7 linked regions of the Homo sapiens genome follow. The protein of the gene in region 5 interacts with the protein of the main gene of each other region in a pairwise test. Each region holds a gene or a part of one and is shown on either strand. Other genes may lie near its edges. The genes, in order: HIKESHI, TNPO2, IQGAP1, RBM47, OTX2, SNRPA and TBCEL.

The links.
Region 1: the proteins of OTX2 (region 5) and HIKESHI interact in binary tests that used the Homo sapiens proteins (3 or more experiments, as listed by UniProt).
Region 2: the proteins of OTX2 (region 5) and TNPO2 interact in binary tests that used the Homo sapiens proteins (3 or more experiments, as listed by UniProt).
Region 3: the proteins of OTX2 (region 5) and IQGAP1 interact in binary tests that used the Homo sapiens proteins (3 or more experiments, as listed by UniProt).
Region 4: the proteins of OTX2 (region 5) and RBM47 interact in binary tests that used the Homo sapiens proteins (3 or more experiments, as listed by UniProt).
Region 6: the proteins of OTX2 (region 5) and SNRPA interact in binary tests that used the Homo sapiens proteins (3 or more experiments, as listed by UniProt).
Region 7: the proteins of OTX2 (region 5) and TBCEL interact in binary tests that used the Homo sapiens proteins (3 or more experiments, as listed by UniProt).

What each region holds. Positions count from the first base shown.
Region 1 is NC_000011.10:86,336,740-86,340,239, reverse strand, and holds part of HIKESHI (protein Hikeshi), read right to left. Parts: exon of another isoform or gene 3,307-3,500; intron 2,862-3,306; coding exon 2,710-2,861; intron 1-2,709. UniProt on the Homo sapiens protein: Acts as a specific nuclear import carrier for HSP70 proteins following heat-shock stress: acts by mediating the nucleoporin-dependent translocation of ATP-bound HSP70 proteins into the nucleus.
Region 2 is NC_000019.10:12,713,933-12,717,432, reverse strand, and holds part of TNPO2 (transportin-2), read left to right. Parts: intron 1-1,693; coding exon 1,694-1,800; intron 1,801-1,894; coding exon 1,895-2,028; intron 2,029-2,108; coding exon 2,109-2,190; intron 2,191-2,263; coding exon 2,264-2,386; intron 2,387-2,493; coding exon 2,494-2,612; intron 2,613-3,500. UniProt on the Homo sapiens protein: Probably functions in nuclear protein import as nuclear transport receptor. Serves as receptor for nuclear localization signals (NLS) in cargo substrates.
Region 3 is NC_000015.10:90,499,491-90,502,739, forward strand, and holds the end of IQGAP1 (ras GTPase-activating-like protein IQGAP1), read left to right. Parts: intron 1-504; coding exon 505-618; 3' UTR 619-2,749; downstream 2,750-3,249. UniProt on the Homo sapiens protein: Plays a crucial role in regulating the dynamics and assembly of the actin cytoskeleton.
Region 4 is NC_000004.12:40,441,365-40,444,864, reverse strand, and holds part of RBM47 (RNA-binding protein 47), read left to right. Parts: intron 1-3,500. UniProt on the Homo sapiens protein: Single-stranded RNA-binding protein that functions in a variety of RNA processes, including alternative splicing, RNA stabilization, and RNA editing. Functions as an enzyme-substrate adapter for the cytidine deaminase APOBEC1.
Region 5 is NC_000014.9:56,800,480-56,803,979, reverse strand, and holds part of OTX2 (homeobox protein OTX2), read left to right. Parts: intron 1-1,624; coding exon 1,625-2,245; 3' UTR 2,246-3,500. UniProt on the Homo sapiens protein: Transcription factor probably involved in the development of the brain and the sense organs. Can bind to the bicoid/BCD target sequence (BTS): 5'-TCTAATCCC-3'.
Region 6 is NC_000019.10:40,763,546-40,765,889, forward strand, and holds the end of SNRPA (U1 small nuclear ribonucleoprotein A), read left to right. Parts: intron 1-41; coding exon 42-130; intron 131-1,462; coding exon 1,463-1,622; 3' UTR 1,623-1,844; downstream 1,845-2,344. UniProt on the Homo sapiens protein: Component of the spliceosomal U1 snRNP, which is essential for recognition of the pre-mRNA 5' splice-site and the subsequent assembly of the spliceosome. U1 snRNP is the first snRNP to interact with pre-mRNA.
Region 7 is NC_000011.10:121,027,102-121,030,601, reverse strand, and holds part of TBCEL (tubulin-specific chaperone cofactor E-like protein), read right to left. Parts: intron 1-3,500. UniProt on the Homo sapiens protein: Acts as a regulator of tubulin stability.

The sequences.
Region 1 (3,500 bases), on a different chromosome or scaffold from region 5:
CATGCTGCTATAAAGACACATGCACACATATGTTTACTGCGGCACTATTCACAATAGCAAAAACTTGGAACCAACCCAAATGTCCACCAATGATAGACTGGATTAAGAAAATGTGGCACATATACACCATGGAATACTATGCAGCTATAAAAAAGGGTGAGTTCAAGTCCTTTGCAGGGACATGGATGAAGCTGGAAACCATCATTCTGAGCAAACTATCACAAGGACAGAAAACCAAACACCGCATGTCCTCACTCATAGGTGGGAATTGAACAATGAGAACACCTGGATACAGGGCAGGGAACATCACACACGGCGGGCGGGTCTGTCTTGGGGTGGGGGGCAGGGGGAAGGATAGCATTAGGAGAAATACCTAATGTAAATGACGAGTTAATAGGTGCAGCACACCAACATGGCACATATATACATATGTAACAAACCTGCACGTTTTGCACATGTACCCTAGAACTTAAAGTATAATAAAAAAAAACTATTTGACTATTTAAACCAAATACATGTAATACTCATAAAAATTTGGAGTAACTAAGTAATTAAATTAGAAACATGTTTAAACAGATACAGATAGTACTATACATATTTTGTGGATACACAGGAATTTTTTTAAGTACTAAAATATGAATAGGAAAGATATAAAAAGTTAGAAGGTAAAAGGCAGGAAGAGAAGCAGGCAGCAGTGGGCTATATCTATAATGCCTTAATTTCTTTTTTAAAAATTAGTGGCAAATAAGACAAAATATAACAGTTAAATCCAGGGGGAAGACAATGGAAGTCTTAATGTATACCCCACCATAAAGAGAGCTCTGTAAAGACAGGTGTTATTCTATTTTGTGGACCTATTTGTATCTATGAGTGCTTAGAAATGCCTGGTACAGGCTGGGCGCGGTGGCTCACGCCTGAAATCCCAGCACTTTGGGAGGCCAAGGCAGGCGGATAACGAGGTCAGGAGATCGAGACCATCGTGGCTAACACGGCGAAACCCCATCTCTACGAAAAAATACAAAAAAAATTAGCTGGGCCTGGTGGCGGGCACGTGTAGTCCCAGCTACTTGGGAGGCTGAGGCAGGAGAATGGCGTGAACCCAGGAGGCGGAGCTTGCAGTGAGCCGAGATCGCGCCACTGCACTCCAGCCTGGGCGACAGAGTGAGACTCCGTCTCAAAGAGAAAAGAAAAAGAAAAAAAGACATGCCTGGTACAGAGTAGTTACATAATAACTATTTGTGGAAAATATAAGTTACTCTATTTTCTCTGTATTTAAAATATTTCGTAATACATTTAATTAAAACTATAGTTTTATTTTAAAAACTCAAATAATTTATAAACATGTACAGTAAAAAAGTCTTCTTACCCTTCTCCAGGGATAACATTTTAATGTGTATTTTCCAGACACTTTTAAAATATTGTCTACACAGGATACTACGATTATTTTATAGTTTGTTTTCAGCACAGCAGCTTATTTGTAAAATTATGGGAAAAAAAACATTTTTGAGACCCAGAGTCTGTCATTCTCAATTCAGTCCATTTTCAAAGATGTGACAAATCTACCTTTACATTCATGACCACAACCTTCAAAAGTGCGCCTCTGGTACTGCCAGGCAAACACATATGGTTTCCCTAATCCATTCACTCCTCCTCTGCTAGAAGACTTATTTAGTAGTCTTTTTTTATTTCAATTTCTACTACCTCGATCTTAGCTGATGATCGTCCTTTCTATTTCACTAAGCAAGAAGAAATCAGGAGACAGCCTGCACAAGTTCTCATCACCACATCTACCAGCCTCCTGAATCTGTACCCATATATCCATTATCCTGTCTAAAGTGAACACCTCCATATATGCTGCTATTTTCTACTCAAGGACACTGCTTTAGCAGTTCTCCTTGCTCTCCTACATCATCAATTTTTCCTCTTGATAATAGGCTAAGAAGTCAGGAACAGAAAGACAAATAGCATGATTGATCTCACTTATATGTGGAATCTAAAAGTTGAACTTACAGAAGCAGACAGTAGAATGATGGTTGCCAGGGGTTGAAGAGTGGAGGGGAAGGGAAAATGAGGACATGTTGGTCAAAGGGCACAAAGTTTCAGTTCAATGGAATGAATAAATTCTGAAAATCTATTGTACAGCATGGAGAATACAGTTACTAATAATGTATACTTGTAATTTGCTAAGAGATCAGATCTTAACTGTTCTCTACAAAAAAATGATGACTGTGTGAGGTGACTGATATGTTAAGTAGCTTGATTTTATGTCAAAATATAGGCTGGGTGTGGTGGCTCACACCTGTAATCCCAGCACTTTGGGAGGCCGAGGCAGGAAGATCACCTGAGGTCTGGAGTTCGAGACCAGCCTGGCCAACATGGCAATACCCTGTCTCTACTAAAAAAAAAATACAAAACTTAGCCGGGTGTGGTGACATGTGCCTGTAGTCCCAGCTACTCAGGAGACTGAGGCAGGAGAATCGCTTGAACCCGGGAGGCGGAAATTGCAGTCAGCCGAGATTGCGCCACTGCACTCCAGCCTGGGCAACAGAGCAAGACTCCATCTCTCAAAAACAAAATAAAACAAAACAAAATGTAAACATGTATCAAAAACATCACATTGTATACCCTAAGTTACGATTTTAACTTGTATATTATACCTTAATAAAGCAGTGGAGGGGGAGGTAAAGAATGAAATGTATGTTGCATTACCTGAGTGAATGAGTCAACTGAGGATACAGCAGCATTACCTACAGGAGTCTGCTGAGCCATACTGTCTAATAATTCCACTGAAATTCCAATCTGAGCAACAGATGGAGTTCGGACAATATTCATGGCTCCAAAAGGATGTTGGCTTCCTTCTCCTGCAAGAAATTAACATATGACACACATTTCAAATTAAACTTGTAGTCACACAATTTCCTTTGTAAATTTATAAAGAACCTCTAATTTATATACATGAAAAAGTTTTATGTCCAAGTTTGTCCCTCTTTTCAGATAAATGCAAAAGCCTACTTCGTTTTTAGCATATTAACAAAGAATAAAAGAACTAAAAGTTTCCCACCAGAAAAATAGCTGTCACATTTCTGAAATGTATTGAAACTACTGCAACTAGACACAGACAGTAACAGAGTGTGGGAAAAATAAATAATTAATAGAGAAGACTCCCTTTAGCATTCCTTATGGAGCAGGTCTGCCAGCAATGACTTAGTTTTTGTTTATCTAGGAAAGTATTTCTCCTTCATCTCTAAAGACAGTTTTGCTGAGTATATAATTCCTGGTTGATGGCTTTTTTTTTTTTCCTTTCAGAACTCTGAATATGCCAATCCACTACCGTCTAGAAGACTATGGGGTCTCTGATGAGAAATCAGCTATTAATCTTAGCAAGGATCCTTGCATGTGATGAGTTACTTCTCTTGATGCTTTCAACATTCTCTCTTTACCTTTTGACAGTTTGATTATCGTGTGTCTTGGTGTAGTTTATCCTACTTGGAGTTTCTTGA
Region 2 (3,500 bases), on a different chromosome or scaffold from region 5:
GAGTGTGGCAGCGGGCACCTGTAATCCCAGCTGCTTCAGAGGCTGAGGCAGGGGAATTACCTGAACTCGGGAGGTGGAGGTTGCAGTGAGCCAAGATTGTGCCACTGCACTCCAGCCTGGACTACAGAGTGAGACTCCATCTCAAAAAAAAAAAAAAAAAAAAAGAGAGAAAAAGAAACCTACTGATAACCTTAGTTAGGAGGCTGGTTTTCTTTATCTCTTCTGAGGGCTGGAAGCACTGAGGCACACAGAATGAGGGGGTGTGGCTAAAGTTCCACAATCCTCACTGTGTACCTACCCATTGCAGGGAGCACCTTTCTCTCGTTGAGTTTCCACCCTTGGGAAACACTGCCATCTCATGGCAGCAAATACCATCTCTGCACTTAACAGAACCCATATCCAGCTCTGTCACCAGATATGTGCACTGTCCTGGCACCTCAGATGCCTGCTGTATGTAACTCCTGGATATCTAATAGGCAGTACAAGCATCCCTGCCACCTTCCTGCCCTTACCTCCTTTCCCTCTCTCATCATGCCTGTCCTTACGCCAGGCCTTTGCACCATAGAGTCCCCTGCCTCAGATGCCCTTTCCCCAGAAACCTGGATGATTCCTCCCTCGCCTCCTTCACCTCCTTCAGGCCTTGGCTCAGATATCAAGATGTCACCTCAACGAGGCCTGCTCTGGCCACCCAATTTAAAGTTGCTACCTTCACCTACAGCCCTTTCTCACCATCTTTTCTGCTGTATTTCCCCCCTTAGTCCTTGGCATGTGGCCCCTCCCAGTTGTTTGTTTTTGTTTTGTTTGTTTTTGAAATGGAGTCTTGCTCCATCCCAGGCTGGAGTGCTGTGGCGCGATCTCTGCTCACTGCAACCTCTGCCTCCCAGGTTCAAGTGATTCTCCTGCCTCGGCCTCCCAAGTAGCTGGGATTACTGGTGCCCCCCACCACACCCAGCTAATTTTTGTATTTTTAGTAGAGATGGGGTTTCACCATGTTGGCCAGGCTGGTTTCGAACTCCTGACCTCAAGTGATCCACCCACCTCGGTCCCCCAAAGTGCTGGGATTACAGGCATGAGCCACCCATGCACGGCCCCTCCCAGTTTTTTTTGCTAATTTATCTTTACTTCATAGCTTGCTTCCAGCTCCCAAGGGTGAGGATTTTGTGTTTTGCTCTGTGCTGTGCCTCAGGGCCTGGAACAGAGTTGACTCACAGTAAGGCTCAGGGTGCCTACTGAGTCAAGGAGTACCCTTCTACCTATGTCAAGGCCAGGAGCGGTGGCTCACGCCTGTAATCTCAGTGCTTTTGGAGGCCAAGGCAGGAGGATTGCTTGAGGCCAGGAGTTTTAGGCCAGCCTGGGCAACATAGTGAGATCCCATCTCTACAAACAATTTTAAAAATTAGTTGGGCGTGGTGGCATGTGCCTGCAGTCCCAGCTACTTAGGAGGCTGAGGCAGGAAGATGGCTTGAGGCCAGGAGTTTGAGGCTGCTGTGGACTATTGATTGTGCCACAGCAGTCCAGCCTGGGCAACAGAGCTAATTCTATCTCTTACAAAGAAAAAAAAAAGGAGGGGGGATGTAGAGGGCGTACATGGGCTAGGGAACAGAAAGGCAGCACTGGGGGTGTCCAGTGGGAGGGGGAGGTGCTAGGCAGCCCCTGCCCAGCCTCAGGCAGCGTCCTTTCCCGGCCGCCCCAGGCATTCTCATCACCACCATCGCTTCCAAGGGTGAGCTGCAGATGTGGCCCGAGCTGCTGCCCCAGCTCTGCAACCTGCTTAACTCGGAGGATTACAACACTTGTGAGGTAGGCAAGAAGCCATGGATGGCCAGAGCGAGTACTGGGGGGCTGGGACCACCACCCACCACCCACGTTTGTCTCTCTGCCCCTCTGCACTCAGGGAGCCTTTGGAGCCCTGCAGAAGATCTGTGAAGACTCATCAGAGCTTCTGGACAGTGACGCCCTCAACAGGCCCCTCAACATCATGATCCCCAAGTTCCTGCAGTTCTTCAAGCACTGCAGTCCCAAGATCCGGTGGGTGCAGCTCCCTGGGGGCTTCCAGGGAGCCTGGAGTGGGCAGGGTCAGGGTGACCCACGTGTCTGCTCCCCGCCAGGTCCCACGCCATCGCCTGCGTGAACCAGTTCATCATGGACCGGGCCCAGGCGCTGATGGACAATATTGACACCTTCATCGAGGTGGGCCGCTGGGCTGGGGGTGGGCAGGGCGAGGACTGAGGGCCCCTACAACTGACCCTGTTCCTCCCTGCAGCACCTATTTGCCCTGGCTGTGGATGATGACCCCGAGGTGCGGAAGAATGTGTGCCGTGCCCTGGTGATGCTTCTGGAAGTGCGGATTGACAGGCTCATCCCCCACATGCACAGCATCATCCAGGTGTGCATGGTCAAGGCCAGCCCAGGCGGGCAGGCAGGGGGCCGGTGGCAGGGGTCAGGGAGCCACCCCCAGCCAGGCCAGGCCTCAGCTTCTCCCCCCTACCACAGTACATGCTGCAGAGGACCCAGGACCATGATGAGAACGTTGCCCTTGAGGCCTGTGAGTTCTGGCTGACGCTGGCCGAGCAGCCCATCTGCAAGGAAGTCCTGGCCTCCCATCTGGTCCAGTGAGTGCTGCTGCTGCCCACTGTCCTACCCCAGCTTCGACCCCTTGCTATGCCTCTGCCTTCCCTTCTGGTCACCTGCTGTGCTTCTCTCAGTCCACATCCTTGTCAGTTTACATTCAGTATATATTTATGTGTAAGTGGTAAGAATGCCACTTTTTGAAGACTTCAAAATTAGGTAACTGATAGGTGGAAAGAAATGAAAAATCAATGGCCACATGTGGTGGCTGACACCTGTAATCCTAGCACTTTGGGAGGCCGAGGCGGGCAGATCACAAGGTCAGAAGATCGAGACCAGCCTGGCTAACACGGTGAAACCCCATTTCTACTAAAAATATAAAAAAATAGCTGGGCGTGGTGGCAGGCGCCTGTAGTCCCAGCTGCTTGGGAGGGTGAGGCAGGAGAATTGCTTGAACCCAGGAGGCTGAGGTTGTAGTGAGCCAAGGTCGTGCCACTGCACTCCAGCCTGGGTGACAGAGCAAAACTCCGTCTCAAAAAAAAAAAAAAAAGAAATGAAAAATCAACAAAGGCTTCAGGGGTATGGCTGTATCCAGGAGCTCAAAGGATGTGAAAGGCATCTTTGTGGTCTCAGATCTGCTTCCCTTGTGTTGGCTTCATTCTTAGGCACAACCTTCCCTCTGGGTAGTGCTGTAGCCTTCTGTGCCCTTCCAGCTTAGGAACTTCAGAGTAAAGAAATTTTCGACCAGTGTTTCCAACAAAAGTCCTAAAACTGACCCTCCTTGACAAACTTGGATTGCTTGCCTCTCTCCAAATCATTTTTTTCTTTTTTATTTTGAGACAAGGTTTTGCTCTGTCATCCACGCTGGAGTGGAGTGTCAAAATCATGGCTCACTGCAGCCTTGACCTCCCAGCTGAAGCAATCCTCCTACC
Region 3 (3,249 bases), on a different chromosome or scaffold from region 5:
AATAGAAATTAAGAATCTATCAGATAGTATTAAGGTGACATTACTAGCCTTATCTCATTTCCCCGTGCTTAGTATATTTCATCATAGGTTTAAATGCTTCACCTTTTCCAGATTTATTAAAACTAGTGACCCATAACATGGATGAAATGGGAAAATGTCATTGTGACTTCTGAAATAAAAAGCTTAGATGTGTGTGGCAATTGAACATGTTTCTTTTTCTTTCCATGTATGATGAATTTTGATATGAACAACATGACTTCCTAACTCCAAATCAACCAGAAGCCTCCCTTGGCCAATGTGCCCTATTGCTCCAGCTCTCAGGCTGGTTGTGCAGTGGGTAGTTGCCTAGCGTGGAACTTTTCTTTCGCCCCAGTTCACATCTGGCACACAAGGCAGGCCTCAGTCCATCTGGATCCCTCCCTACATTGTGTCCTTTTTCCTTGTTCCACAGACTTGATTAACTGTCAAAATGTTTTGTTTTGTTTTGTTTTGTTTTGTTAATAGGACCTGCTGCAGCTACAGTATGAAGGAGTTGCAGTCATGAAATTATTTGATAGAGCTAAAGTAAATGTCAACCTCCTGATCTTCCTTCTCAACAAAAAGTTCTACGGGAAGTAATTGATCGTTTGCTGCCAGCCCAGAAGGATGAAGGAAAGAAGCACCTCACAGCTCCTTTCTAGGTCCTTCTTTCCTCATTGGAAGCAAAGACCTAGCCAACAACAGCACCTCAATCTGATACACTCCCGATGCCACATTTTTAACTCCTCTCGCTCTGATGGGACATTTGTTACCCTTTTTTCATAGTGAAATTGTGTTTCAGGCTTAGTCTGACCTTTCTGGTTTCTTCATTTTCTTCCATTACTTAGGAAAGAGTGGAAACTCCACTAAAATTTCTCTGTGTTGTTACAGTCTTAGAGGTTGCAGTACTATATTGTAAGCTTTGGTGTTTGTTTAATTAGCAATAGGGATGGTAGGATTCAAATGTGTGTCATTTAGAAGTGGAAGCTATTAGCACCAATGACATAAATACATACAAGACACACAACTAAAATGTCATGTTATTAACAGTTATTAGGTTGTCATTTAAAAATAAAGTTCCTTTATATTTCTGTCCCATCAGGAAAACTGAAGGATATGGGGAATCATTGGTTATCTTCCATTGTGTTTTTCTTTATGGACAGGAGCTAATGGAAGTGACAGTCATGTTCAAAGGAAGCATTTCTAGAAAAAAGGAGATAATGTTTTTAAATTTCATTATCAAACTTGGGCAATTCTGTTTGTGTAACTCCCCGACTAGTGGATGGGAGAGTCCCATTGCTAAAATTCAGCTACTCAGATAAATTCAGAATGGGTCAAGGCACCTGCCTGTTTTTGTTGGTGCACAGAGATTGACTTGATTCAGAGAGACAATTCACTCCATCCCTATGGCAGAGGAATGGGTTAGCCCTAATGTAGAATGTCATTGTTTTTAAAACTGTTTTATATCTTAAGAGTGCCTTATTAAAGTATAGATGTATGTCTTAAAATGTGGGTGATAGGAATTTTAAAGATTTATATAATGCATCAAAAGCCTTAGAATAAGAAAAGCTTTTTTTAAATTGCTTTATCTGTATATCTGAACTCTTGAAACTTATAGCTAAAACACTAGGATTTATCTGCAGTGTTCAGGGAGATAATTCTGCCTTTAATTGTCTAAAACAAAAACAAAACCAGCCAACCTATGTTACACGTGAGATTAAAACCAATTTTTTCCCCATTTTTTCTCCTTTTTTCTCTTGCTGCCCACATTGTGCCTTTATTTTATGAGCCCCAGTTTTCTGGGCTTAGTTTAAAAAAAAAATCAAGTCTAAACATTGCATTTAGAAAGCTTTTGTTCTTGGATAAAAAGTCATACACTTTAAAAAAAAAAAAAACTTTTTCCAGGAAAATATATTGAAATCATGCTGCTGAGCCTCTATTTTCTTTCTTTGATGTTTTGATTCAGTATTCTTTTATCATAAATTTTTAGCATTTAAAAATTCACTGATGTACATTAAGCCAATAAACTGCTTTAATGAATAACAAACTATGTAGTGTGTCCCTATTATAAATGCATTGGAGAAGTATTTTTATGAGACTCTTTACTCAGGTGCATGGTTACAGCCCACAGGGAGGCATGGAGTGCCATGGAAGGATTCGCCACTACCCAGACCTTGTTTTTTGTTGTATTTTGGAAGACAGGTTTTTTAAAGAAACATTTTCCTCAGATTAAAAGATGATGCTATTACAACTAGCATTGCCTCAAAAACTGGGACCAACCAAAGTGTGTCAACCCTGTTTCCTTAAAAGAGGCTATGAATCCCAAAGGCCACATCCAAGACAGGCAATAATGAGCAGAGTTTACAGCTCCTTTAATAAAATGTGTCAGTAATTTTAAGGTTTATAGTTCCCTCAACACAATTGCTAATGCAGAATAGTGTAAAATGCGCTTCAAGAATGTTGATGATGATGATATAGAATTGTGGCTTTAGTAGCACAGAGGATGCCCCAACAAACTCATGGCGTTGAAACCACACAGTTCTCATTACTGTTATTTATTAGCTGTAGCATTCTCTGTCTCCTCTCTCTCCTCCTTTGACCTTCTCCTCGACCAGCCATCATGACATTTACCATGAATTTACTTCCTCCCAAGAGTTTGGACTGCCCGTCAGATTGTTGCTGCACATAGTTGCCTTTGTATCTCTGTATGAAATAAAAGGTCATTTGTTCATGTTTGTGTTTTTCTCAGTTTCATTGTTAACAGTTCCTGCTAAACACCTTGACTAGAGTGAGATGTATCAGTTAAAATCACAACAGCAGACAACCCCTTCCTTTTAAAGGAGAAAACGTAAGTCCACCATCAGATCATTGAATGTCTCAAAGTGACTTTTAATGTGTGAACGTGTGACTTTAGCCTTTTTAATGAATATGCTTAAGTTATCTTCACCATAAAAAGAAGGGTGTTGCGGGAAGCAAACATTATATGTCACTTAATTCTGATTGACGAACGGTGGAAAGTTTAAAATTGCAACAGCATTTAACCTTTTTTGACCAGCATACTGTTGTTGAGCACATAGACTGTGCCCCTTAGGGGGTTCCTATGTCACTTGGAAGTCACCAGAAAAGACTAGGGGATGTTGAATGTGGAAAAAGTAAATCACAGCAGTAAAAAAAGAAGAAAAGGGGCTGGCGTAGTGGCTCACACCTGTAATCCCAACACTTTAGGAGGCC
Region 4 (3,500 bases), on a different chromosome or scaffold from region 5:
GGTGAAACCCCATCTCTACTAAAAATACAAAAATTAACCGGACATGATGGTACGCACCTGTAATACCAGCTACTCAGGAGGCTGAGGCAGATAAATCGCTTGAATCCTGGAGGTGGAGATTGCAGTGAGCCAAGATCATACCACTGCACTCCAGCCTGGATGACAGAGTGAGACTCCATCTAAAAAAAAAAAAAACAGTTAGAATTTAAAAATTAGTCCTGAAATTAAGTTATCATTCAGCATAGGAAAACTATTATACGTAGCAAGCAGAATCTAAGAGCTTCAAGGATGCGCTCTTCCACATCTCCTAGACCAGGGGTCAACAGAGCCGGAGAGTAAATACCTTAGGCTTTATGAGCCACACTGTCTGGGTCTCAACTATTTCGCTTTGCCATTGTAGTATAAAAGCAGCCACACATTATCTTTTCTTTTTTTTTTTTTTAAGGATAGGGTTGTGTTCCAATACAATTTTATTTATAGAAACAAACAGCAGGCCATATTTGGCCCACAGCCATAGCTTGCCAATGCTAATCTAAAGCACATATAATTACAATAAGTTAAGCATTTCATTACATCTTTGAGAGAAGGGTCATGTTAGCTGTACAGTTGTCTTTTTCAAAGTAACTTGAAAATCTTTTCCTTTTCGTTATTGTTGTTGTTGTTTTTGAGACAGGTTCTCACTCTGTTGCCTAGGCTGGAGTGCAGTGGCGCAGTCACAGCTCACTGCAGCCTCAACTTCCTGAGCTCAGGTGATCCTTCCACCTCAGCCTCCCAAATAGCTGGGACTACAGGCACACACCACCATGCCCGGCTAATTTTTGTACTTTTTGTAGAGATGGGGTTTTGCCATGTTGCCCAGGCTGGTCTCGTGCTCCTGAGCTTAAGCAATCTACCTGCCTCAGCCGCCCAAAGTGCCAGAATTACAGGCGTGAGCCACTGAGCCCAGCCTCATTTATCTTTTAATATATCTAAGTGTTTGGCATCTGAATTCATTGAGTAGAGTAGCACACCATATAATTTATTTAATATGGTATATTAAACATGATGATAAGGAGAATAAAACTTGTAGGCCATAAGATTTTCTTGAATGTGTTAACCTGAGTCAGTGTACCTTTTTTTTTTTTTTTTTTTTTTTTTTTTTTTTTTTGAGAAGGAGTTTCACTCTTGTTGCCCAGGCTAGAGTGCAATGGCGCCATCTCAGCACACCACAACTTCCGCCTCCCAGGTTCAAGGGATTCTCCTGCCTTAGCATCCTGAGTAGCTGAGATTACAGGCATGTGCCACCACGCCCAGCTAATTTTGTATTTTTATTAGAGATGGGGTTTCTCCATGTTGGTCAGGCTGGTCTCGAACTCCCAACCTCAGGTGATCCGCCCACCTTAGCCTCCCAAAGTGCTGGGATTACAGGTGTAAGCCACTGTGCCCAGCCCAGTGTATCATTTTTTAATGGCCTCTAATGAAATCCTAGTTTTATCAACTCTAATTTTTGTCTTTTTTGCATCTCTGAACCTTTTCTTTTTTTTAAAGGATTTTGTTTTTACTGTGGTATATTATACATAACATTTTACCATTTTTAAGTGTATGGTTCATTGGCAGGAAGTATATTCACACTGTTGTGCTGCCATCACCACCATCCATCTCCAGACCTTTATTATCCCTAATTAAGACACCCACACCCATGAAGCACTAATTCCCCACTCCTCCCTTTCTCCAGCCCATGGTAACCACTAGTCTACTTTCTGTCTATGAATTTGACTACTCTAGGTACCTTATATAAGTGGAATCATATAATATTTATCCCTTTGTGTCTGGCTTATTTCACTATTAGCATAATGTCTTCAAGGTTCTTCCATATTGTAGCACGTATCAGAATTTTATTCAAGGCTGAATAAGCCGGGCACGGTGGCTCACACGTGTAATCCCAGTATTTTGGGAGACCGAGGCGGGCAGAGCACCTGAGGTCAGGAGTTCAAGACCAGCCTGGCCAACATGGTGAAACCCCACCTGTACTAAAAATACAAAAATTAGCTGGGCGTGGTGGTGTGCGCCTGTAGTCCCAGTTACTTGGGAGGCTGAGGTGAATTGTTTGAACCTGAGAGGTGGAGGTTGCAGTGAGCAGAGACTGCACCACTGCACGCCAGCCTGGGTGACAGAGTGAGACTCTGTCTAAAAAAAAAGCAAAAGAAAAAAGGCTGAATAATACTGCATTGTATATGTATACCACGTTCTGTTTATCATAATCCATTGATCAACATTTGGGTTGCTTCCATCTTTTGGCAACTGTAAATACTGTTGCTGTGAACATCATTATACAAGTATCTATTTGAGTCTTTTGGGTATATACCTAGAAGTGGAATTGCTGGATCAAATGGTAATTCTATGTTTAATTTTTTGAGGAACCACCATACTGTTTTTTACAGCGGCTGTACCATTTTATATTCCTACCAGCACTGCATGAGGGTTTCAATTTCTCCACGTCCTTGCCAATGCTTATTTCCTGTTTTTTGTTGTTTTTATAATAACTATCCTAATGAGTGTGAAGTAGTATCTCATTGTGGTTCTCACTTGTTGGTATGCAATACTTGTAGTTGGTGTAAGAGACACAGCAAATTTGGATATTGCATTAATCAATGTCTGGCTGTAATTAGATATATATGCATGTATGTATGCATTGATTCGTCTCCTCCAAAATTACAACATGGTTTATAAGAACATGTGAACAATAAGATAAATAATACAAACAGCTCAATTCATGTCACTGGGAAAACTGAAAAAATAGAAGAAAACTAAAAAATGAAACTATAACCCAAATTAGATGAACATGAAAGTGTGTTGTAATGTCCCCTACAGTTACTAAAATTGGAGTGAAAAAAATCAATCGTGAACTTCCTAGAGGCCAAAGTAAAAATAAAAACAGGGTCGCTAACATGGTTTGTTTATTACAGAAGATGATAGCATAGGTGAAGAAAGGCTTTTCTTGGCTCATTGATGTAAGAAATAAGCTATCGCTATTTTAAAATATGTAGAGATAATTGTGTTACTGACACCAGCAGATTTCAGACTGAAAGCAAACAGGATTTTTTCTTATATTATTGGGGTTGGAATTGGCAATGACTCCGTAGCCTGACTACTGTAAGACTGTTTTTGTAGGTAGAATAGTAGTTTCAAAGCACAGTTAGGGTGACAGGAAGGCAACTCCACCTATCTCAGCAGAGAGATAAGTTCTATTCCCTTGGACTTTAGTCAGTTAATGTTGTATACAGTACAACAGGTAAGATCTTGAATTGTCTCCTATGTATTTATATATGTACCTGGCATTTCCTGCCTAGGTCACAGATTGTAACTACATGGGTGTTTATGCAAATAGTCCTCTTAAAAATATATCCTTATCTTCCATTTGGAAGAAGGGAAAGGTCTTCATGTTCAGATTTAATGTTGAAATTTCTTGGTTGGGTGTGGTGGCTCATGCCTGTAATCCTAGCACTTTGGGAGGCTGAGGC
Region 5 (3,500 bases):
GGTTGCTGGTGGAGAGAGACCCATCCTTGAGCAGGTTTCAAGAGTAGTCACGTGGTGTTGTAACCCTTCCCTTCCTCTGTATAGAAATCCTCTCCTATTCTCATGGACTTGTACGTGTGAAAGCAGCTTAGCTCTTGGACAGTCCAAGTATTTTTACAGATGAAAAAATAGAGTAAATGACTTGCTCAAGGTCATAACTAAGTTTGGTGGCAGAGTCAGGGTATAGACGCAGCTGGTGCTTTTACCAAATAAATCAACACAAAAAGAATGTATTTTCCTTGACTTCTTAGGGATTGAAGAGAATTTTCTAGTTCTGAGCCATTTAACAGATAAAATATCTACATAATGTCTCTAGTGACACCCCTCTTGTTTTAGTTCCCCTAAACTTGACCTTAAACTGGAGAGGGAAGGTCAACTCCAGCTTGCCTTGTGAGTGAGCCCTGTACAGAATTCTCTGCAAAGTGTTTAGCACATAAACCACATACACACCTGGGCCTCTCCTTCGGCTAGAATATGTTTATGAAAGCGACAGACATCAGTGTCAGCTGCAAATTGGGAAAGGGGCTTTTTCAAAGTAGGTTAGAGGAAGTTTTAGCACTTGCAAGGCTTGAACCAAAGTCCTCACTAGGAGAAAACAAATGGCTCCAAATGGTTGGTGGTCTTGAGCTTGGCCTTGGTGGCCTCACTTTTACCACAGTTACGGCACCCATACAGAGAGCTCATTCAAAAGTTCAGCTAAGGATTTGTCCTCCAGAAAATGCCAGTAGTTCCTCTTCTAAGCCCCCTCGTACACCAATCATAGCTCCTTCATTGCAGAACATGAACAGGGCTGGTAAAGAGAATTGTCAAGATTGCAGCAGGGGGTTGAAGTGGTAAGTCAGTAAACACAGCACAGGAGACTGAGTCTATGTGCTGAGTGGCACTACTCTAACAACACAGACTCGAGTCCCAGAGACTAGCAGGTCTGTGCTCCAGCTCAAAGCAGAGTGCATGTAAGTCACTCCTTTTACCACAAAGAAGCTTTTAGCAAATAGTGGCTTTCAGACCTCTTTCTTCAACAAGATCATGTCTTCCCCTTGGAGCTTTGTTCTGTGAGTCTTTCTAAGAGAGACAGAAGGGTGATGGAACCAACCAACCTCTATATTAGCAGTTGCTTCCTGGAAGATGAACTGTAAATGAATTTAGGCTGTTCCTGTTAGCCTGTAACAACAGAATTGCTTTCTCTCACTTCTCATGTATTTCCCTCCAAAAGACAGAGATACATTCTATTCCTCTGTGAGAGTGTTCCAAAATATAGCTGGGTCTATGTGTATGTGTGTGTTAGAGGCGAAATAAGATAGGAAAGTGATGTGGAGAGTTTTTAGCTATATGATTTGGGGGATTATCTTAAATGTTATTCTGGGCAAGAAATAAGACAGTGTCAAGTGTTTTTAGACAGAGCCTCCCCAACTTTCTTACAAGTCCAGGAGTTTATATGAGAGTACCACATAATAGGTCTTCAGTGGCAGGGGAAATTGTGTGTTTAGCTGATCTGCCCATGTAGGATAGATTTATAATACGGGAGCCATTCTTGTCCTTAAGGAACTATCAAAACCGAGTTAAAGAATTTTCTTTCCCTTCCAAGGTATGGTTTAAGAATCGAAGAGCTAAGTGCCGCCAACAACAGCAACAACAGCAGAATGGAGGTCAAAACAAAGTGAGACCTGCCAAAAAGAAGACATCTCCAGCTCGGGAAGTGAGTTCAGAGAGTGGAACAAGTGGCCAATTCACTCCCCCCTCTAGCACCTCAGTCCCGACCATTGCCAGCAGCAGTGCTCCTGTGTCTATCTGGAGCCCAGCTTCCATCTCCCCACTGTCAGATCCCTTGTCCACCTCCTCTTCCTGCATGCAGAGGTCCTATCCCATGACCTATACTCAGGCTTCAGGTTATAGTCAAGGATATGCTGGCTCAACTTCCTACTTTGGGGGCATGGACTGTGGATCATATTTGACCCCTATGCATCACCAGCTTCCCGGACCAGGGGCCACACTCAGTCCCATGGGTACCAATGCAGTCACCAGCCATCTCAATCAGTCCCCAGCTTCTCTTTCCACCCAGGGATATGGAGCTTCAAGCTTGGGTTTTAACTCAACCACTGATTGCTTGGATTATAAGGACCAAACTGCCTCCTGGAAGCTTAACTTCAATGCTGACTGCTTGGATTATAAAGATCAGACATCCTCGTGGAAATTCCAGGTTTTGTGAAGACCTGTAGAACCTCTTTTTGTGGGTGATTTTTAAATATACTGGGCTGGACATTCCAGTTTTAGCCAGGCATTGGTTAAAAGAGTTAGATGGGATGATGCTCAGACTCATCTGATCAAAGTTCCGAGAGGCATAGAAGGAAAAACGAAGGGCCTTAGAGGGGCCTACAAACCAGCAACATGAAATGGACAAACCAATCTGCTTAAGATCCTGTCATAGTTTTAGATCATTGGTTATCCTGATTTGCAAAGTGATCAAAAGCATTCTAGCCATGTGCAACCAAACACCACCAAAAATAAAATCAAACAAAACTAAGTTGTGAAGGAAGGGAGGGAAGGTCATAGCCTTCTTAAGCAGAGGTGTTCCATTGTTTTAGCCAATCCTTGGTTGAATCTTAGGAATGAACAGTGTCTCAAGCTCATTCACGTTTCATGACCAACTGGTAGTTGGCACTGAAAAAACTTTTCAGGGCTGTGTGAATTGTGTGACTGATTGTCCTAGATGCACTACTTTATTTAAAAAATAATGTTCATAAGGAGTCAATATGTAGTTTAAGAGACAATCAGTGTGTGTCTTATAAATGGTACATCTGTGGTTTTTAATCTGTGCTAGACTTCAAAACTGTGATCTCCTGTTATTGTATGCAACCTTGAACTCCACCTCTGCAGGGGTTCTTCTGTGATTAAATAGGTTATAATTATAAGCAAAATTCAGAGCAACTGAGTACTGATCTAAAAAGATTACCTTTGGCTGGAGGTGAGCTGCACTGAAACTTTACGACAAAATGTCTCTGGACAAAGAGAGTCAGAGAAGAGAAGCAAAAGGACACTAATTCATCTGTAATTTACTGTTGGTAAGCCTAGCAGTAAAGAGACATTGGTCAATTGCTCTGACCCTGATGAATTATTAAACTGAGATCATTGTCGTTTATGCTTGCAGATGTTAAATGGAAAAGTTATATATGCATAAACCTTTTCTTCCTGGATTTGGCAGATATGTATAATTATATTAAAATGGTTCTAGCACAACATTGGGTCCAGTTTAATTTTACACCGCTATTTATGAATAAGAAGCCTACATTCAGCCTTTCCTCCCCAAAACACGTTTTTCTTAGGACAGAGAGTAAATTAGCAAACTTATTTTTACTTTTTTTTTTTGCTAATCTATGCATAAAATAGATATGAATGACAGTGGTAGGTAGACTTTTTGTGACTTTCATCAGGATTGCTCTGAAATTGAGTTTGGAGAGCCTAAC
Region 6 (2,344 bases), on a different chromosome or scaffold from region 5:
TCAGGGCTCTTGTGCTCACCGACTCCCCTATACCCCCGCAGCTTTCTGAGAATCCACCGAATCACATCTTGTTCCTCACCAACCTGCCAGAGGAGACCAACGAGCTCATGCTGTCCATGCTTTTCAATCAGTAAGTGGGGCCTGTGGCTGGGTGGTCCCTGGAGGGTGATGGCCAGGAGGCATCTCCATGGAAACAGGCCTCAGAACTCTGCCAGCAGAGCTCTGAGCCAAGTAGGGCTTTGCAGAAGGGACAGCGACCAAAGATGTGAAAGGAGGAGGCTGTGGCTGGGCCCACGGCCTGTGGGGGACATGGGGGTGAGGCTGGAAAGGTCTCCATGGCCAGGGCTTGCCGGCTTTTTTCAGCCTTGTTTGAGGGCTGAGGGAGTCCAGGCTCTGGGCCTCATTTTCCCAGCCCCTAAAATGGGGGCATGCAAGGCAAGGTATGTGTAAAACTGCATTGAGATGTCCTTGAACATTGGCTAAGACTGGCAGAAGTCAGCGTGCTCAGAAACAGCAAGTGTGGGAGATGGGGATGCGTGAAACTCTTGTGCCTGGCGTCAGGGTGGAGGCCGGTGCAGCCGATGTGTAGAGGGGCTGTTCACCATTGTTGAGTGAAGTCGTGGGTGTGGGTGAGTTCATCTGGTGGTTCTGTTTCAGGGGCTGTGAGTGGGGCATTCGTCAGTGTTTGTGGTGGGGAGTTGGAGGGTGTCTGGGAGAAGGGATGGCTACATGCAGCATCTCACCATGCTGCACTGCGTGGCACTTAGAAGAACAGAAAGCGCAACTTTATAATAGTGCCGAGAGAAGATTGTGAGAACCTGAAAAATACAGAAAAACAATACCACATGTGCAGCCTGTCCACAAAGCTGTATATTTTGTGAGAATGCCGATGGAAAAAAGGATACCTAGTAAACATGAGGATGGCTGCTTAATGGAGAAAGAAGTATGGAATGAGAAGAGGGAAATTAGAGAAACAGCATATCAGAAAAGTGAGGGTAAGGCCGGGTGCGGTGGCTCACGCCTAAAATCCCAGTATGTTGGGAGGCTGAGGCAGGTGGATCACTTGAGGTCAGGAGTTCGAGGCCAATGTGGGCAACTTGGTGAAACCCCTTCTCTCCTAAAAATACAAGAATAAAAATGGAAAAAGTGAGGGTATTGGTTATTTTTTTGGTGTGGCGGGTGGGTTATGATTTAGGAAGGGCCCAGGAGACTGCGGTGTACTGTTTCTTGATTTAGGTTGCAGTTGCATGGGTGTTTGTGTTTAAATTTTTCATTAAATGCTATGTTTACATTAGAGTTTTTCAACTTAGTACTATCTGCATTTTGGGCTGGATAATTCTGAGTAATGGGGCCCTGCCCTGTGCATTGGAGGCTATTTGGCATCATTTCTGGCCTCTGTCCACTTGATGCCGTTACGTTAGGGGGAAATGCTGAGTCCCTGAGGTCTGTCGTTCTCTTTCAGGTTCCCTGGCTTCAAGGAGGTCCGTCTGGTACCCGGGCGGCATGACATCGCCTTCGTGGAGTTTGACAATGAGGTACAGGCAGGGGCAGCTCGCGATGCCCTGCAGGGCTTTAAGATCACGCAGAACAACGCCATGAAGATCTCCTTTGCCAAGAAGTAGCACCTTTTCCCCCCATGCCTGCCCCTTCCCCTGTTCTGGGGCCACCCCTTTCCCCCTTGGCTCAGCCCCCTGAAGGTAAGTCCCCCCTTGGGGGCCTTCTTGGAGCCGTGTGTGAGTGAGTGGTCGCCACACAGCATTGTACCCAGAGTCTGTCCCCAGACATTGCACCTGGCGCTGTTAGGCCGGAATTAAAGTGGCTTTTTGAGGTTTGGTTTTTCACAATCATTTGTCTGTCTGATTTTCTTGCTCTTCATGGTTCCTTTCCCTCCACCTCAGCAGCACATCCTGGGTTTTTGGACCTCTTGGCATTTTGAGGTTTGCAACCTTGGGGAAACATAGGATAGTGTAGTAATATTGTTCAAACTCAGGTTACAATGACTACTTTGGCAGTTTTGTATGTTGTCCCAATTCACAGCAGGAAATGGAATCCTGGGTCAGGAAATGGAAAGTCAGGGCTGCCGCGTACAGTTAGGCAGGATGGGTACTGCACAAGAATGGCACCTTTTAAGGGCACACCATTCACTTTGTAGGCTTACAAGTTTATGCCACCACTTTTCTAACAGATGACAAGAGTGTTCAGGGAGAGGTGTTTCTTCACCTTTTTTTTACTCTTCTCAAAAGTGCAGCCTGTTGTAGCAATGGCCCCAGAGAAACCACAGTAGGTAGTTCAAACAGAAAGGAATTTAATACAGGAAACTTGGTGCTGCTGAAATCATGGGGCG
Region 7 (3,500 bases), on a different chromosome or scaffold from region 5:
CCTGTGTAACTAATCAGCAAGACCTATCAATACCACATCCAAAATATCCCAATTTTGCCCAATTTTGTCCATCTCTATTACTTTATTCTTGTTCAAGCCATCATCAACTTCTCACCAGGACCTCTGCATTAGCCTCCGCCCTGGTCCCTCTTGACTCTTATACAAATCATTCTCCACAAAGCAGCCAAGTGATCTTTTCAAAATTTAAGTCAAATCATGTCCTTTACACTCTCCAATGGCTCCCCTTCACATGCAGAATAAAATCCAATCTCTTCATCATGGTCGCCAAGGATTCATTTAATCTGATCACTGCTTACATCTCTAACCTCATTTCCTCCCACTCCTTTCCTGGCCCACTACTCAGCCTCCGTGGTTTTCTATTTCTCAGACTTGCCAAGCTGATTTCCCCCTACAGCCTTTGCATTTGCAGGATTGCCCTTTTCCTGTCTCTTGGCAGAGCTGCTTCATCTCAGTGTTTAAGTCTCAAATTTAAACACAAATGTCACCCTCTCAAAGAGGCTGCTTCTGACCACCCCATCAAAAATAGCACTACTGCCACCATCACTCATAGTCACTTCACCCTCTGTCATTCTTTATAGCACTTATCATAATCCGTTAGTTCAGTGTTTGTTCTCCAGCAGAAGATAGGTCCCACACAAGCAGGGATTTGTCAGTCCAGTTCAGTTTTGTGCAGAGCAGTGCCTGGCATATGATTAAAAAATATTCATTGGATAAATGGAAAAGTGAATTTCATTATCAATAGACATGAAGCAACACCTTCTGACAGTGAAATGAAAATGAAGCTCACCAATGGCAGAATGAGAAGAAAAATTTTGAAAATCACCGGAAACGCATTATTCCAAGAACAGTTTTAAATAACTTTTCACAATAGTACTTGTTATGGATCACATTCCTAAGAATGATTAGTGATTAATCAAAGTTTCACACAGTTTTAAGATCCTGAATTTGGGAAATGGGCTACCTGTTTAAATTTCATTTTTAGAAGAGCACTGTGATTAAAAGCATGGTCTTCAGTTAGTTCTGAGTTCACTTATGACTACTGTGTAATTTGAACAAGTTACTTACCTATCTCTATGCCTGCTTCCTCACTTGTAAAATGAAGCTATTAATAGCCATTTCACAGTTATTGTGAAGACTACATGAAATAAAGTTTTTGAAGCATCTAGTTAAGTACCTGGCATGAAGTAAGTGGTCAATAAACTAGTTATTATTGTGAAAGCTGAGACGTCCAGACAAATGGAGGAGCTGATATGAGTCAAATAAACAAACATCCTCCCCTTTTGGCAGAGGTGGGAATACATGCCAGGATTAAATCGTTTTTCCCTCCAAAAAGACAAATGTACACAAAGGTAATATATAAGAAGCATGGACAAAGGACTTTGAGAACACTGAGGGAGTGACTGTCTTCACTAAGGAGGTCAGTCACATGTAAAACTGAGTTTTACAAGACAGCAGCAGAAATGTACTAGATGAAAAGAAGGGGAAAGCATCTGCACAAACACAAATGAGTGAGAAATGCAAAATAAAGTGAGAAATGTAGTGTAGTTGGTGTAGAGTATAGAGTATATGTGGGAAGACGGCTAGAAAATAAAGAATTGGTAGGGCCAGATGGTAAGGGGCTAAGGTCCACCATTCAAAAGTTTGCACTTTATTCTTCCATCAGTGGGGAGATGAAGGGGAAAAATCCTAACATGCTAATTTGATACCAATTCTTCTAAAGAAGGCGGAAACACCTTTATGACTTTAAACACCACATAGGGCCACAATCTGTTAATGTAAAATAGAAAATATTTTAAGCCTTAGTTCTTAAAACCATATGAGCAATTTGTTTGTTAACAATGACTGATCTGGAACCTCTCTTCATGATGTTTTATTATTACTGCGGTGACCACTGTTGTGCTAGGCATCATCATGACAGCAGATAAAATCTATTGTAAGTTTATTATGTGTTGTGTACTGTGTTGTTTTATATGTATTATCTCACTTAGTTATCACAACACTTTTATAAGGGGTACTATTATCCCATTTTGCAGATCAGAAAACTGAAGCAGAGAGGTTACGGGCCCAGAGCTAGTGACAGAGCCAGGACTCAAATCTAGGCTGACTTCAAGGCCCTAAAATTAAACCAGTTTGCTGAATTATGATATTGCTCAGTTCATTAACATCACTTGCTGAAAAGTTATTTGAGTACCTACTGTAATTTAAAGCATCAGGCTAGGTCAGTGACTTTTAACTTTTACTGTATGGAAGAATCATCCAGACAGCTTGATAAAATGCAGATTCCTAGATTCCACCAGAGATTCTGATTCAGTAAGTCTAGGTCAGAATTCAGGGATCTGCTTTATTTTATTTTATTTTATTTATTTATTTATTTTTTTAAACAGTGCCTCACTCTTCTTGCCCAGGCTGGAGTGCAATGGTGTAATCATAGCTCACTGAAGCCTCAACCTCTGAGGCTCGTGATCCTCTGGCCTCAGCCTCTCAAGTAGCTGGGACTACAGGCATATACCACTATGCCTGGCTAATTTTTTAATTTTTCATAGAGATGGGTCTCCCTACGTTGCCCAGGTTGGCTTTGACTCCTGGATTCAAGCGATCCTCCTACCTCGGCCTCCCAAAGTGCTGGGATTACAGGTGTGAGCCACAATGCCTTGCCGGATCTGCATTTTTAACCATACGTTCAGTCAATTCTGATCTACTTGGTCTATGAACTACGCCCTGGTAGACCCTGTGCTAGATGTCCTAGTTTTTCATGGATATTTGAGCCTCCTGTTCACCACGCATTTATAATCTAAAAGGGATAAAAATAAGGTGCACAAATAATACAAAGCAATATAGCAAAGGCAGTACAGACAACATAAGCAACAAAGACTTCAAAGAAGAGGGGTCATCTGAAATGAAATGAGAGTGAGTAGGATTTCATGAAGAAAGGGAACATTTTATATGCAGACTTTCAGGGATAATTTTACACACAAAGGAAGGTACATGAGCAGAGGCCTTGGCAGGTAGAGGAACTGCATTTAGGAGTGTAATGATGATGCCAGAAAAAAAGTAGAGGAAGTCTGTAGAAGGCCCTAAATATCAAGCTAAACACCATGGGCTTTATTCAGTGCCTGTACTGGAAAGCAGCTAATGGTTTTTGAGGAGGGAAATGAAATAATCATAGCAATATCCTTTGGAAGAGTTCTCTCATGAAGCTATGCAAGCAAAAGACAATGGGAACAGTCCAGTTATTACCATTCTAATTCCAAAGAAGTAAGTCAGAATGGGTAGCATGAAAAAGGGAGGAATAGTAAATCTCAATAACTAATCACGTGTAGGAGAAAGGCAACAATCGCAAATAAGGATTCCTTCACCCTTTAAGCCCAAATTGTATCACTATCAGTTTCACATTACTTCTTATACAGCTAACCAGGCCCAAAATATATAAAGAGTTCACTTATTTAAAACACAGCCCAGGACTAAGTAAACTGGTCTCT